Linked DNA regions of Homo sapiens: region 2 is linked to region 1. A link means that fine-mapping ties the variant in region 1 to the expression of a gene that starts in the linked region. Tissue or cell type: macrophages. Region 1 holds a variant in brackets; the other region holds the start of a gene. All regions are shown on one strand. Distances are from middle to middle.

Evidence for each region. PIP is the estimated chance that this variant, and not a neighbour inherited with it, causes the effect.
Region 2: LINC02762 starts here. The variant in region 1 is fine-mapped to the expression of LINC02762 in macrophages (Nedelec 2016, PIP 0.95).

Annotation. Positions count from the first base shown.
Region 1 is chr11:112,521,333-112,529,453 of GRCh38, reverse strand. The region is part of intron 2 of LINC02763 (long intergenic non-protein coding RNA 2763); the gene reads right to left. Among named protein-coding and RNA genes, the nearest start is that of LINC02764, 30 kb to the left of the region's middle. The variant G/A (reference allele first, on the strand shown) is at 4,050.
Region 2 is chr11:112,266,691-112,274,804 of GRCh38, reverse strand. It overlaps LINC02762 (long intergenic non-protein coding RNA 2762), which reads right to left and starts at 4,056. Exons shown (of 4, transcript NR_126004.1): 1 at 4,022-4,056. It also overlaps the pseudogene ST13P10.

The sequences.
Region 1 (8,121 bases):
CCTTCCTCCCTTCCCTTTCACCTTCTTTCACCTCCTTTCCCCTTCTTTTTTCTCTATCCTTGTTTCTCTGTCTGCAGGAATTGAAATGTACAATCACGGGCCACTCAGCAGGCTGGCTGGCTACCATCACCAGCCTTCTTTCCCTCCATCACAGGTCATGAGGCTGCAGTTGCCTTGGAAAAATTCTGGTGCTACCCTCCTCAGTACAGGGAAATTTTCCTGGCTCCATCTTTTTCATTTTGAAGTGGTTTTCGTTTTCATGTCATTTCCCATTTCTATCCAATGGCCTCATGTCTGGATTTACTGTCTCTTCCCAGCCCCTTTGGTTTAATGGCTCAGCTGGGGGATCTGGGCTCTGATTTTTGTTTCCTTTGGGTTAGGTCTTCTCAGATCACCTTTATTTCTACCCTGCCTGGATCACGGTAGAAGCATCAGAAGGGTATGTGATGGCCTCAAGAAAGTCCAAATGCAAAGATACTCCGCCTCCTCAACCCTTGTAAGGCTGGTTGGACACACGTAAAATCAGGAATTGCTGTTAGGATGAGAAAGGTTTATCAAGCTCATGTTTTAAGCTCTGAGTTAATGTTGTTTTAAGCTGACTCAGTCATTAGATTCACACAGCATTGGCTAGGGGCGAGGGGCAGGGGGCAAAAGAGAGAGGAAGGAAACCAAGTGAGTAGGGCTGGAGAAACAGTTTGGGATTTGGGAGCTGTGGGAAGTGAGACAATTAGGGAGGAAAAGGGGGGATTTCTGAGAAGTGGTATGTGGGTGAAATGGATTCCTCTTAGCATTCTTTAAGAGATCTCAATACAGATTTAAATCAAATTATTATTTGTTGGTTGGCTTGCTCTTCTCCAAATGCAGCTCTATACAGAAACTAAGAAACACAGAGCCACAGCTTTTTTCAGTTTATATCAAGACAGAGCCTAAGCTCCTCATCATGGCGGACCAGGTCTTGCAGACACATCTCTCACCATTGTTCCATTGAGAGTTCACATTCAGCCAGACTGGGCTATTTCAGATCCTTTTAATAGGTCAGGTTTTTACTCCCTCTGTCTGAAACTACCTTCCTATTCCCTTTCTGCCTTTCTTAGTCAGTTCATGCTGCTATGAGAAAAGACCATAAACCAGATGGCTTATAAACAGGAGAAAATTATTTCTCCAAGTTCTGGAGGCTGGGAAGTCTATGATCAAGGTGCCAACAGGTTTGGCTTCCTGGTTCATACAGGGCATGTGTCTCATGTGTCCTTACCTGGTGGAAGGGGGCAAGGCAGCTCTCTGCGGCCTCTTTTATAAGGGCACTTACCCCACTCATGAGGGTTCTGCCCTCATGACTTGATTACCTCCCAAAAGCCCCACCTCCTAATTCCATCACATTGAGGGTTAGATCTCAACACAGGAATTTTGGGGAGACACATTCAGGCCATAATACTTCCTTTTTCCTAGCCAATTCCTACTCACAGTTTTAGCTTAGATGTCACTACCCAGCAACCCCAAATCTGGATTCCATGGCTATCTTCTGTCTCCCATAGCACCCCAAAATAATTCTTTCAGACTACATTGTAAGTGTGGATTTGTTGTCTTCTCTACCCGATTATAACCGTTACAAAGGCAGGGGCTGTCTGTCTCACTCACCCCTCTGTGTTTAGCACAATGTCTGATATAGCCTAAACGCTCAATAAATGTCTACTGAATGGATGACTCTGCTCTGACACTGAAGCTTCTTCCAAAATACCAGGATGACTCCTGATGTTCCATATTTCTCCACCCCTGGTGCCACTTATGCCTCCCTTCCTGACAGTTTTCAGACTCCGGAGCAGAGAGTTCACCCACTTCTTTCCCTGGAAGCAAGAATGGAAAGAGCCTCAGCTCCTGGCTCCAGGCAGGCTGTTACCCAGGGGCTCACAGAGCATGAGCAGCCTCCATGGAGTGGGAAGGGCTCTGTGGTGGACCCTCCAGCAGGCAGCATAGCCACCTGCCAGGTGTTCACCTCTCCAGGACTGCCTCTGCCTAGCCTGGACGTAGAACCTAATCTCAAAGAGGACTTTTGTTTTTTAAGGATTTCCTTCCTCAGGCTGGATTTCTCTCCACTTTCCCAAATCCCTGCTGTCCCTAGGATAGGACTCATTTATTCATCTCAGTAAACAAACATGCACTGAGCACTTACCACAGGGAGGATCCCACAACTCGCCCTTGTTATTGTGTAATGTGCAGTCATCTGGTAGAGGCTGCAACCACCCAAAGACACAATCAGAAAGCATGTGGAGGGAGGGGGTCCAGAGAGAAGTCTAATCCAGTCTGAGGGCACTCCTCCAGCCCACTGAGACATCCCTGGGGGATCCTCATTCTTTCCCAGTCAGCCCTCTGTTCTCCATTTATCTCCTTTTCAATGATTCTCTCTTTTCCTTCTTCCCTAGACATCTGGAGTCTCCTGCTGATGTGGGCAGTTTCCTGCTTCTCCTGTAGATAGTGAGAGCCTCACACCCCTACAGGGAGGTGTTGCCTGCAGTCTCAGCTCAACACCCTGGTCACCCTTTGCTCGCACTTGCTGACTTAGTCAGACCTCAGATTGAAGCATCTGAGGATGATGGGCTGTGTGACTAAGGAAGGGGCTGCCCCACCCAGAAGTTTAGATTACATATTTGTGTGCAGGACCTAGCACAGATAGGTCTACCCAGCATAGCTTTTTCTAACTTTGATTTAGACTGAACTCTAGAAGAGCCAAGCAGAATGTAAACCTCATGTTGGGGAGGTCAAGTTACTTTCTAGCTCAAGATTCTAGAGAGACAATTTAGCAACGTGGGCTTTGAGGTCAGGCTGCTAAGGTTCAAATCCCAGCTCTGATACTGGTTAATTAACCATTAGTGGAGTTATTTATCCTCTTTAAACCTGAGTTTCCTCAACTGTAAAACGGGGTAATAATAGCTCATACTTCATGGTGTTTCTGTGAGGATTAACTCAGATAATTTGTGTAAGCCTTCCATAAAGTGCCTGACACATGGCACTCAATAAATGTCAGCTTTATTTTTGGAAACCCGTTTTAGGTATTGGATAGCCCAGACCCCAAGCAAGGCTCTGTGGGAGCCACATCTTGCTGAGAGTGACAGGAAGAAGTTATTTTTAAAACAGATTACATTGCTGGGTTAAGTCCCACTTTTGGACTCTGTTGCCTTTCTCCTTTGATTCCTTCTAGGTGAATCCTAGACGGGTGCCCAGCATTTTGCTTCAATCAACTCTAAGGAAAACACACTCTGGAAAGTCTGCTAATCTAGTCTAGCAACCCAGGGCTGGAAGCTAGGACCAACTAGAGTGACTCACAGCAAATCTCATCTTTCCCTGGAGATGCAGAAAGGAAAGACACCAGACACCGTCACTGAAACTGCCTTGCAAGCCCCCACCTCCCATCACTGCACCAGGAACTTGTGTTTCTCACTTATGACTTGACCCTGGAGGGCTCTCCTCCTCTATGACTCCCCTCTGAGGATGCGGTCACTGCATCAGCCATCTCAGGCAGCACCCTTGAGTTACATGCAAACTGCTTCCCCTCAAAGTTGCGGTACACACCTTACACAGCTGGTATGGTGGGCCGTTGTCAAGTTTCCTGGCTGCCCAGCCCCTTTAAACACCCTTCTTACATTAGAGGAATTTTCCATCCTATGCATCCTGCCTCCTAAAAGTAGAAACAATAACAGTCACTTTCCCAGCCTCCTTTGCAGCTAAGACATAAGCAGGTGGCTGAGGAGCTGCTGGGATGATAAGGTGACATTCTGGGGCCAGATGTGGCATGGACACTGAAGGCAGCAGTGGTGACAATGGTCATGTTCCTGGCAAATTGTGATACAAATTAGAACATCCAGTTGGCGGCAGTGGCGGTGCCACAGCAGTTTTCTCATTAAGCCAGTTCTGCCACGTGTAGTGGAACATTATTCTGCACGTGTAGCCTGGGGCCTGGTTTCCCAGGCTCTGCTGATTCTGTGAGACACCCAACATCCTGTTACTAAACCTTTCCTGCTGTGTCAGCCAGAATTGGCTTCAACTGCTTACCATGA[G/A]GAACCCCGATTCCTACAGGCAAAAACCACAGGGAACACATGGTGGCAACATAGAAGTCAAGTCTTACTGAGATCTCTCTTGCTTAATAGATATGTCCAAACCCTTTAAATTCCTGTGCCCCTGGTCCTGTCCCAAAAGGAAACCTCAGACTTTATGTTTTTTTAGGCAAGTGGAGCAGGTTGTGACCCTGCAATCCAGCCTGAGAAGGCATAAACAGCATCTCAGCATTTGTCAAAGCAGCTTCCTCCAGGGGAGAGGTCAAAGCTGTCTTTGTTGGGATGATTCCAAAACAGGCTCCAGGGGCCACAGCTACAGGCTGAGACCAAAGGCCCTCCTCAGGCAGCTGACACACAGTAAGCAAAGGGCCCGAGGTCATGCCTGGGTCCAGAGCTTGAGGGCTCTGAGGTCAGGCCAACACAAGGAATGGTGACGGGAAAGACTGAGGAGCTCAGGCCCGCTCAGAGACATGTCATGAGTTCCTTGGCTGCAGCTCCTGTCCAGGGCTTGGGAGCAGCCACGTTAAGCCCTTCCAGAGCCCTGGCACTGCTGACAGAAATACTGGCAAGGTGCCTGGTCACATATAAACAAATTATCCTTCCCACACTCCTGAGGAACTGAAGAAGGAAGGCATGGAAGACCCTGAGAACCATGCTGGGACTTCTCTACACGCTCCCTGCTAAGGGTCTTCCTGTTTCCAAAGACCCTCTGGTCAGGACACTTGTCTAGGAGACAACTGGCCTCTGGCTAAGGAACAGAGGGGAGATGAAGACACGGGGTAGCTGGAATGCAAGCTGTGAGTTTGGAGCTCTCTGAACCATCTCTTCCAGGTGACTGGGGGTAGCTGGAATGCAAGCTGTAAGTTTGAAGCTCCCCGAACCATCTCTTCCAGGTGACTGCTTGGCTGAGGTCAGAGAGTCTGGGCCAATATGCAAAAAGAACCATGCCAAGCAGAGCAAGAGGAGAGCTCCAATGTCAGAGTGCGAGGTGTTGAACCCACTGTGCCAGATCTACTTCTGGTGACAGGGGGCAAGAAATTTCCCTTTCTGCTCAAGCTAGTTCGGGGGGTGGCTTTTGCCACTTGCAATCAAAATAGGCCAGACCACCACAGGTTCCTGAGACAGAGCCTTAAACATGTTTCCTGTTCTCTGTATGCTCACAACAGTGGGGACAAGCCATCATTTCATGGAAGGAGAGCCACTGTGCTTCTTCTGGATAGAAAGGCAGCTCTTGTTAGTGCATGACCTATGATTACCCCACAACAGAGCTAACATCATTCAAACATCCACAAAATAGCCTACAGTCATGCACCAAGTCACAGCCTTTTGGAGAAGCTTCAGCATGAAGTCCAGAAGACTTTAGTCTGTAATTCCATATAGATACAGACAAAAGATCCAGGTTTTTTCTCCCCTCCAGCCCTCATCTTTGGCCCTGACACCCTCGGATTGCCAGGCTTGTCTCAGAAGATGCTGGGAACTGTCTAACTGCCCCTACCAAGTTAAGCACAGCAGGAGGCAAATAAAATGAGGCCCCGCCATCCCATTGTCCTGGGCCCCTCCCACCTTGGGCTGTCCAGATTCAGGGCTGGGCACCAAGCTTAAGCCACACTCCCTACATTCTTTTTTTGGGAAGCTGGCACAGACCTCCAGGCCTTAGCCCAGCAGCAACTGTAGCTTTGTTACCCTGGGGCATGGAAATTTCCCTCTCCCTGACAGCCTCATTCATTTGTCTCTTAATTAGACACAGTCCCCCACGGTGCTGTGTCCTCCACTGTGATCTTTGACAAGCTCCTAGAGGGCCTCCCCACTGAGTCATGTGATCAGAGGGAAGTCATCCAGTCCAGCCCCTGCTTTAGGCTCACTCCCAGCACCCCCGCAGCTCCCAGCCCAGAAAGGGAGTCACGTCTCTGAGAGGCAGCTGTACCATTGCCGGCTTTTCAGTTGTTAGAAATTTCTTTTCCCTATTCAGCTAAAATTGGCCTCCCTTCCACCCCATTCCCCTTCTATCTTATCACAGATGTAGTTCATTTTCACATCCATAGGACAGGAATTTATTGAAAAACAGATCTTTTTGTCCTTATAAAAAAAAAAAAACTCTTTTTCACCTAAACAACCTGTTTCCTCTCCTGTTCCTTATGGTTTTCAGACCCACAGCCATTCTATCCATGGTTGCCTGGATACTTTACACAAACAAACGTTAGACTACACTGCAGCATCAGAACTAAAATCTACTTCAGGTGAGGTCTTAAAAAAAAAAAAAGCCCACACATTAGTTAATTATAATTTAACTTATATCCCTCCCCCTCACTGTCTAGAACTTGAATAGTTGGTGAGATAGAAATGGCTAGTTGCCTCCAAATATCCATTTCCCCTTCTTTTCATCAACAGGATCTAATTTTTTAGCTGGGCATACTGTCACCTGGGTAAAACAGTCCAATTCCAATCATCCATTGCAGCTGTGTTACATGTAACTAATTTCTAGCCAAAGAGACATAAGCAGAAATGTGTGAGAAACTTCCTGGAAGCCTCCTTAAGAGTGAGAAGGTGGACCCTTCTTTCTGCCTTCTCCATTCTGCTTCTGGAACTCAGATGTGATGCCTGGAACTCTAGCAGTCATCCTGGACCACGAGGATGTGGACTGTACACTTGAGCAATTAGAAGGGAACTGGTTCCTGACAACTCTGTGTTGCTGGCTGCCCCCACTAGCTTGGGATTGCCTAACTCTAGACTTGTTTTATGCAAAAAAAAAAAAAAAACTTCTCCTTTATTTAAGCTATATAGTATTTGAGTGTTTTCTTAAATATGCATTAAGACCTAATCCTAAATTTGCCACCCTGAAGTTATTATAATGAGTTGTATATGTACCCCAAGAAATTTCTCAACCAGATAATTCTGAAGAAACTCCAGCTCTCATCGCAATTTTTTTCTCTTGTCTTTTTTAATGCTTAACAAAACTTTGCTGAAGACTTAGAGATAACAAAAATATTATAACAAAGGAAACAAATTTGGCATACTCGTTTTCTATGGATGTCCTAACAAATTACCACAAACCTGATGACTTAAAACAATAGAAATTTATTCTCTTCATTCTGGAGTTCTAGAAGGCCAGAAGTCTGAAGCCAGTATCACTGAGCTGAAATCAAGGTGCTGACAGGGTTATGCTTTCTCCAGAAGCTCTAGGGGAGAATCCTTCCTTGTCTCTTCCGGTTCCAGGTGGCTTCTGGCATTCTTTGACTTGTGGTTGCATCACTTAAATTTCTGCCTCTACAGTCACATTGCCTTCTCCTTTTTTTAAATGTCAAATATCCCTCTTCCTCCCTCTCAGGAGGACACATATGATTGTTTTTAGGACCCACCTAACCAATCCAGGATAATCTCTTTTTCTTAAAATCCTTAATTACATATGCAAAGGCCTTTTTTTGCCATATAAAGTAATATTCACTTGTTCCAGGGACGAGGACATGGATATCTTTGGGGAGCCATTATTTTAGCCTACCACACCTGGATGTTACGGAGAGCTCCTCTCAGAGCTGAAGCCCTAAGACGATAGTGGTGTCTTATAGTGGTGGTGTCCCCCACCCAGGTCCTGGTCTGTGTCATACTACAAGGACAAGCTTTCTGTCCAGCACAGAGTCCTGGAGCACACCTCCCATAGCTGAGGTATACATAGTTTCCTGACTCCCCCAGACCCAAAGAGAGGGACCTGTTTCTTATGTTTGCCTCTGCCACCTGCCTTTATATCCCACTGCCAAGTCAAAAGCCCACCTGGCCCATTCTCCATCTCCCGTACGAGGATTGGCCTCTTCATAGGATGATAGACAGTGGGATTGCCCAAAGGGATGTAGGGTCCTAGGACTCTAAAAGTCAATGGATCACCTCAGAACAAAGTGACAAAAGATTCACCTATTCATTCATTCAAAGAAAGGTAAGATTGTAAGGTGGCAAGCCTGTATTGCAATTGGAATCATGTAGGCTTGAGCTATAATGCCATCACTTGCCAGTTACATAATCTCTATAAGCCTTTGTTTCCTCATCCACAAATAAGAAGATAGAAAGGAAAATAATGTCCACATTG
Region 2 (8,114 bases), 250 kb after region 1:
TTTGGGAGGCCAAGGCAGGTGGGTCAGTTAAGCCCAGGAGTTCAAGACCAGCCTGGGCAACATGATGAAATCCCATCTCTACAAAAAATACAAAAACTGGCCAGGTGTGGTGGTGCATGCCTATAGTCCCAGCTATAGGGAGGTTGAGGCAGGAGGATCACCTGAATCCGGGGAGGTCGAGGATGCAGTGAGCTGTGATTGCATCACCGCACTCCATCCTGAGCCATAGAGTGTAACCTTATCTCAAAAAAAAAAAAATGCATGTTCCTGGACCCCCCCACCTCTGACCTACAGATCCAGAACCTGTACGCTCCAGCCCAGCCCTAATAGGCTAGTGGCTTCCCTTTGGACCCTTGGGACCAGCCAGTCTAGTCACACCACAACCATTGTCCTCAGAGAAAGCCCGTCTCACCATTTGTCCTCCACAGAACATTCCTCCAACCTCCTCCTCCCGTTCTCACTATTCTCTCCATCGCAAACCTTCCCTCTCTGCCACTTAAAACTTCCACTGCTGAGTGAGCTCCCCTACATCTTCCACTCATTCCTTTCCCTTATGAGCTTAGATGAAACCACCAGGGGAAAAATGGCAGACATGAGCTGCAATGATGGCCACCACCCCAACTCAGGGGAGCTCAGTCATCTTAGGCAGCAGGCAGCTGCAGTGATAATGGCTGCCCCCACCCCCCTGGAAACTCTTAGCAGAGTTAACAGAACAGAGCTGTTAACAAAGCTGTGCAGAGTTAACTTAACAGAGCTGTGCAGATTCTCAGCAGCCACTTGACTGGGGTCTTAGGCAGTCTCCAGTCAAGTGGCTGCTGAGAATCTGCACAGCTCTGTGCTTGGGACCCAAGGCCCTGGTAGTGTAGCTCAAAAGTGGGATCTCCTGATCTGTGGGTTGCGCAGATCCGTGGAAAAAGTACGGTTTTCTAGCAGGGTAGCATGATCACTAACCACCTCCCTTGGCTTGGGGTGGGAGCTGCCCTTTCCCCGTGTGGCTCCCAGGTGGGCCGTCGCACCACCCGGCTTTTCTTCACTCTTCATGGGTCACATCAACTGCTTAGTCAGTCCCAGTGAGAGAACCTGGATACCCTGGTTGCTGGTGCAGGATTCACTTGCCATTTTGGTTCCTCCCAGTGGGAGCCTCTGACCACAGATGTTTCTAGTTGGCCATCTTGGCCTCTCCCCCCAGTACTAATATTTTTATATGAAGAAAATAGTATCTTTGAGGTTTTAAAGGCAACTGTGAAATAAAATTGTTTCACCTCCGGGTGAAAAAAATAAAAATAATAAACAAATAAAAATAAAACTCTGTTGCCTACAGATAGAATTCAAAATGCTTAGCATGACCTATAAGACCTAGCATGACTTGGCCCCTATTTACTTGCCAGCAACAGCATCTGTCACTCTTTTTCTTGAACATTACCTTTTCATTGTTCCCTGCTCACATCACACTGTTTTGTAATTCCACACTTCTCTCTTCCAGGAACATTCACCCCAACCTACCCCTATCCTTCAAAACAGTTCATCCAGGATGGCTGCAGTGACTCACACCTGTAATCTCAGTGCTTTGGGAGGCTGAGGCAGGAGGATTGCTTGAGGCCAGAAGTTTAAGACTGCAGTGAACTATGATTCACGCCACTGAACTCCAGAGAGAGAGAGAGAGAAGAAAGAAAGAAAGAGAGAGAGAGAGGGGGGAAGGAAGGAAGGAAGGAAAGAAAGGAAGGAAGGAAGGAAGGAAGGAAGGAAGGAAGGAAGGAAGGAAGAAGGAAAGAAAGAAAGAAAGAAAGAAAGAAAGAAAGAAAGAAAGAAAGAAAGAAAGAAAGAGAAAGAAAACCAGCTCATCCACCATTTACCCAAAAAGCATTCTTTCCCTTCTTTTGTACTCCTAAGGCTTACCTCTATCTTAGCATTTACGCATTATTTTGAAATTATGTTTATGAACCTGCCTCTTAACACTAACCAAAAGCTATTCAAAAAGAGGGATAAGCCAGGCATGGTGGCTCATTCTGTAATTCCTTTGGGAGGCCCAGGTAGGAGGATTACTTGAGGCCAAGAGTTCAAGATCAGCCTGGGCAACATAGCAAGACTCCATCTCTACAAAAAAATAAAAGTTTTAAAAAGGAGAAATCTTAACTGGTCTTTATGCCCCTGCCCTAAAGCTTACCACAATGCCTGCCACATATTGGACCCTCAAAACAAATTATTGATTAATTTTCACAATGGGACTACAAGGCAGGCATTACAAATGAAAAAAACTAAGTCCCAGAAAGCCAGTTACATTCCAGGGGATGGGAGGGCAGCAACTTGAAACCAACTCTACCGCTAAGGCCTAGGCTCTCTCAAGTACAACCTGGAAAACATGAGTGAGCAAGGAGATGGAGGTGAGAATGAGGTGTCAGGGCACCCACCCAGGACATGATGCGTGAGGAATGGAGGGATATGAAGGTGGACAAGATTCTCAAGGGTGGAAGAATATGGTCATGAGGCCTTGGCATTGTGGCTTCTAAGCAGAGCCCTGATACGCTAAACTGCCTGGCAATATCAGGCCAGGCAGTTTGGTCTGACATTGCCAGTTTAGCTGCCCAGGCATGTCTGCTAGCTAAATCTAAATGCTGGGCCTGAGGTCAACGTCCCCACAAATACCCACAACTCTGCTGCACAACCATATTCAGAGTCCTGCACTTACTCAGCCTCTGCTTGCTGAGCAAGCAGATACTACCTCTCTTGAGCACAAGCCTCCAGGAAGTTCCTAATGTAGATCAAGGTGGGAATATCCATGGAATATCCAAATTATATTAGAAGGCCAGGCAGGGTGGCTCACATCTGTGATCCCAGCATTTTGGGAGGCTAAGGCAGGCGGATCACTTGGGACCAGGAGTTTGAGACCAGCCTGGGCAACAGGAAAAAACCCTCTACAAAAAAAAAAAAAAAAAATTAGCCAGGCATGGTGGCATTCACCTGTAGTCCTGGCTACTCAGGAGGCTGAGGCAAGCGGATCAATTGAGCTCGGAGATTGAGGTTGCAGTGAGCCATGATGGCACCACTGCACTCTAGGCTGGGTAACAGAAGGAGACCCTCAAAACAAACAAGCATACAAACTAACAAACAAAGTATATTAGAAGATAAATAAATATGGACTTGAGTGGACAAGAGCATCTTTGCGCCTCAGCCTCTCCTGAGAGGTGCCTCTTCTCCCACCCACCTTCCAGGGGCCTTCCCCTACAAACCTAAACATAGAAGGCAGCCAATGAAAGGGACCAAGAGGCAGATTCCTGAGATAAGCCAAGGAAAGCCCAGGCCCAGGAGCCCACAGAATGAAAAGAATATTCTCAGACAGTAGCAAAACAGGAAGACTGTTCGACACAGCTGAATGCATGCATCAGAACATGGCCGTCCCCTGCACACCCTTCTCTGGAGCTCTTAGGCTAGAAGATGATTTCTTCTGGACAAGGAAGACACAGGACATGGGGTGAAAATAATTCCAGCAAAAGAAAGCTAAATACACCATCCCGTGTTTACAAAACACAGGAAAAGTAGCGAGGGTATAGAGAACCAAGGATAAAGGCAGGATGCCCTTTTCTGGTAAACTTCATGCCAAACAAAGGTGAAGGGCCAGGATTAGCTCATTAGCGGGGAACTCAGGGCAAGAACACCCTGCCCTCTGTTCTGTCCTCACCTGAATCTCTGGGACGAAGCCAAGTTGTCACCTCCCTAAATGGTTCTAGAAACAGAAGAGTTCATGCCCTGCCTGGGGAAGGGACTTCTAGGTCTTCAGCTCTAATCATATGTTTTATGCACAGGTGGAGACATTCAGATCCATGGCCCTCACCCTGTTTCTGCTCTGCAGACTGAGATAAGAGCCTTACGTTTACAAAGTTTCACAAGAAACTGGAATTTGTTGCCCTTCTTTTCCACCTCCCTTCAGCCAGCTCCACTTTTCCTCGGATGCCATGGAGACTCGTAACCAGCTGGACAGCATACATCCCAGAGCTGGAGGGGAGCACAAGCGACCCTGACTCACCTGCCGTTGCTCAGAAGGGAGAGAAACCTGTGAAACTCGGAAATTCCCTCTGGGGGAGGTGTGGCCAGCTCCCAGGCACCACCTCCGCGGAATCTCTCCAATCATAACAAGAAGAAGGAAAACAAGCAGTTATCCAGTGCTTTCTCTATGCCAGCCATCACGCTCCACAAGTATTATGTCGTTAAAAGTTCCCAACAGCCTTATGAGATGGGCACTGTCATTCTCCCCACTTTGTGGATAAGGAAATAAAGCAGTCGCATAAATTGGTCTGGGGTCACCCTTGGTTTCCCATTGGAGTGTAGGCTTCCTGAGGTTAGAAGTTGTTTTTATGGGCTGGGTGCAGTGGCTCACGCCTGTAATCCCAGCACTTTGGGAGGCTGAGGCGGGCGGATCACCTGAGGTCAGGAGTTTGAGATGAGCCTGGCCAACATGGTGAAAACCCGTCTCTACTAAAAATACAAAAATTAGCCCGGTGTGGTGGCAGGTGCCTATAATCCCACCTACTCGGGAGGCTGAGGCAGGAGAATCGCTTGAACCCAGGAGGCGGAGGTTGCAGTGAGCTGAGATTGTGCCATTGCACTGCAGCCTGGGTGACAGAGTGAGACTCCCTCTCAAAAAAAAAAAAAAGAAGTTGTTTATATGACGCTTTGGGAGTGATATTAAGAACATAAATGCTGACTGACCAACTGAAAGATTCGAAGCACCGTGGGTATTTAATAAATGTTATTATTGATTGCTATTAAAAATCATTAATATGATTTTATATGTCTCAGGAAGCAGTACTACAAATAATTCTGAAGTTACTCTATCAATAACAAATTATGTAAGTGACAAAATTGCATTTGTTCACAAGGCTAGAAATAGAGCCTAATTGTTTTCAGGAATGTGGACATTATTTGTTTTTGTTGATAAGAAAGATTAGCTGCTATGGTATAAGTAACGATATTTAGTTGCTACTACATAGTATCAAATCAGTGCAAAAGGAAAAATCACAGATCACGAGATATATGGCAGAAGTTAGAAGAATGTAAGGGAATTAAATGAATTAAAGGCTGTTTCTGTGACTCAATTAATTAAATGATATTGAAAAGAGAAGGTAGAAAGCTGGATTCAGGGCTGATTTTCAGGAGCCTAGTTGTAAATAATTAGACCACCCCTTGGATGTGTACACGACATCAATACCTCATAGCCTCCACAGGAGCAGGGTTCATCTCCTCCTCCCAGTACCTGCAACAACAGAACCAACACGGAGATGCCAGCACGGAAATTCCCACGATCACAAACCCCACCTTTCTCTTATCATTCTGCTCTACCTTTCTTTTCCCTATATCCTTAACTTCTTACATTTTAAATCTTGTTTTCCTGTAAGCTGCTTTAAGTCCTACCTGAATAAGGCAGGGTATCAGAAAATCAATACACTCTTCAGGAACTTAACCGAAGGGAATTTCCTGTGAGAGCACATGGCCTTGACTTTGCCCCTGGAAAGGTGTCCTCGTCACATCCTTGTCAGACCACCACAGGAACCCACAGTTCATCCTGCCTGTTCCAATTCATGTCCCACTCATTAAACCGTCCTGGTTTTTTTGTTTTGTTTTGTCTTATTTTGTTTGCTGCTGAATCCTCTGGTTAAACAGCAGGAGCAATGCAGCCAAATGTCTTGATAAAATGTCACACCTTTCCATGAAATTTCTAAGTGTAGCTATGCAGGACAGAGGAAGAGCCACTTGTTTCCAGTTACTGACCTAGGTGGGCTTAGTTCTCTTCAGGTTCCTGCAGTGGGTTTCCTCTCAAGCAGAGAATTCTTTCCTCTCAAAGGAAGAAGCCACACTAGCCATGTAAAGAGAGTGTCCAAACCTTCCTCTTCCGCAGCTGGAAATACCTTCCCAGTTCCTCTTCTGTTTGGGGACTGGGAAGCTCTGAGTCCCAACTTCTCTTGTCCAGTTTCACTTTCTCACCCACCAACCCCTGCTCTCACTCTACCACTAAGTGCCCTCAACACTGATCTCTCCCTAAAAGTGACTGAAATAAATGTCCAATTTTGGGGGGATGACTGATTCTAATGTTGGGAAGAGAAGCTTAAAAGATCTGACCTCCTACTCAGTGAGAAAGGGGTCCTTGAACACCCTTCTTGAGACGTAACCTCCCTACTCCTACTTAAATGCTAGCAATTCCTGCTTTTTGCCACAGTAATGCAAGGCATTTCTGGAAGTTACGATGCAAACTAAATCTTTTTAGATCTCTGGTTTCAAAACTTTGGATTTTAGGCACCTAGATAGGTGCTACGTTTTCATTTTGTTAAATAAGGACATTTAAAAAATAAATAGGTGCCCCCTTCTGCGCAGTCACACTGAGCCAGTGCCTAGGCCTGGAACCGGGCCACGGCCCCTCAGCTTCGTCCACCGCCTCCCGACCATGGACCCCCACAAAGTGAATGCACTTCGGGCTTTTGTGAAAATGTGTAAGCAGGATCTGAGCGTTCTGCACACCAAGGAAATGCACTTCCTGAGGGAGTGGGTGGAGAGCATGGGGGGTAAACTATCACCTGCTACTCAGAAAGTTAAATCAGAAGAAAATACCAAGGAAGAAAAACCTGATAGTAAGAAGGTGGAGGAAGACTTAAAGGCAGACGAACCATCAAGTGAGGAAAGTAATCTATTAATTGATAATGAAGATGTGATTGAACCAGACCCTGATGCCCCTCAAGAAATGGGAGATGAAAATGCAGAGATAACAGAGGAGATGATGGATCAGGCAAATCATAAGAAAGTGGCTGCTATTGAAGCCCTAAATGATGGTGAACTGCAGAAAGCCATTGACTTATTCACAGATGCCATCAAGCTGAATCCTCAGTTGGCCATTTTGTATGCCAAGAGGGCCAGTGTCTTCATCAAATTACAGAAGCCAAATGCTGCCATCCGAGACTGTGACAGAGCCGTTGAAATTTATTTCAGCTCAGCCTTACAAGTGGCGAGGTAAAGCACACAGACTTCTAGGCCACTGGGAAGGAGCAGCCCATGATCTTGCCCTTGCCTGTAAATTGGATTATGATGAAGATGCTAGTGCAATGCTGAAAGAAGTTCAGCCTAGGGCACAGACATTGCGGAACATCAGAGAAAGTATGAGCAAAAACGTGAAGAGCGAGAGATCAAAGAAAGAATAGAAAGAGTTAAGAAGGCTCGAGAAGAGCAAGAGAGAGCCCAGAGGGAGGAAGAAGCCAGACGACAGTCAGTAGCTCAGTATGGCTCTTTTCCAGATGGACTTCCTGGGGGAATGCTTGGAATGAGAGGGGGCATGCCTGGGATGGCCGGAATAACTGGACTCAATGAAATTCTTAGTGATCCAGAGGTTCTTGCAGCCGTGCAGGATCCCAAAGTTATGGTGGCCTCTTCCAGGATGTGGCTCAAAACCCAGCAAATATGTCACAATACCAGGGCAACCCAAAGGTTATGAATCTTATCAGTAAATTGTCAGCCAAATTTGGAGGTCAAGAGTAATGTCCTTCTGATAAAGACCGTGCTGAAGGAAAAGCAACCTAGATCACCTTATGGATGTTGCAATAATACAAACCAGCGTACCTCAGGGGTGCTTTGAAGATAATCCATATCCCTCTCCCCCAAATGCAGCTGAAGCATTTACCATGGTTTGCCATTAGGGTATTCATTCAGATAATATTTTCCTACTAGGAATTACAAACTTTAAACCCTTTTTAAACCTTAAAAATATTTAAAACAAATTTAAAGGGACGGTTAATTCTTATATTTTTCTTTACTAATCATTTTGGATTTTTTCTTTAAATTATTGGGCAGGGAAGATACTTATGTATGGAAGATTACTGCTCTAATTTGAGCAAAATAGAAGTTTATTAGTGCGAGGCAAACATAAAAAAATAAGTAAATAAATAGGTGAAGGAGGGGAAAATCTACCATCTATAATCTACAATGACTATAGTTTCATAAAAGAAAGAACAACAAAACATCAGAAAGCTATAACATCAAAATAAAAGGCAGGCTTTAAACCAAATCAACATTTCTTTCTTTATAAAAACTGTCATAATTTTGCCCTCATCTCTGTCATTCCATGAAAACAGGTAAAC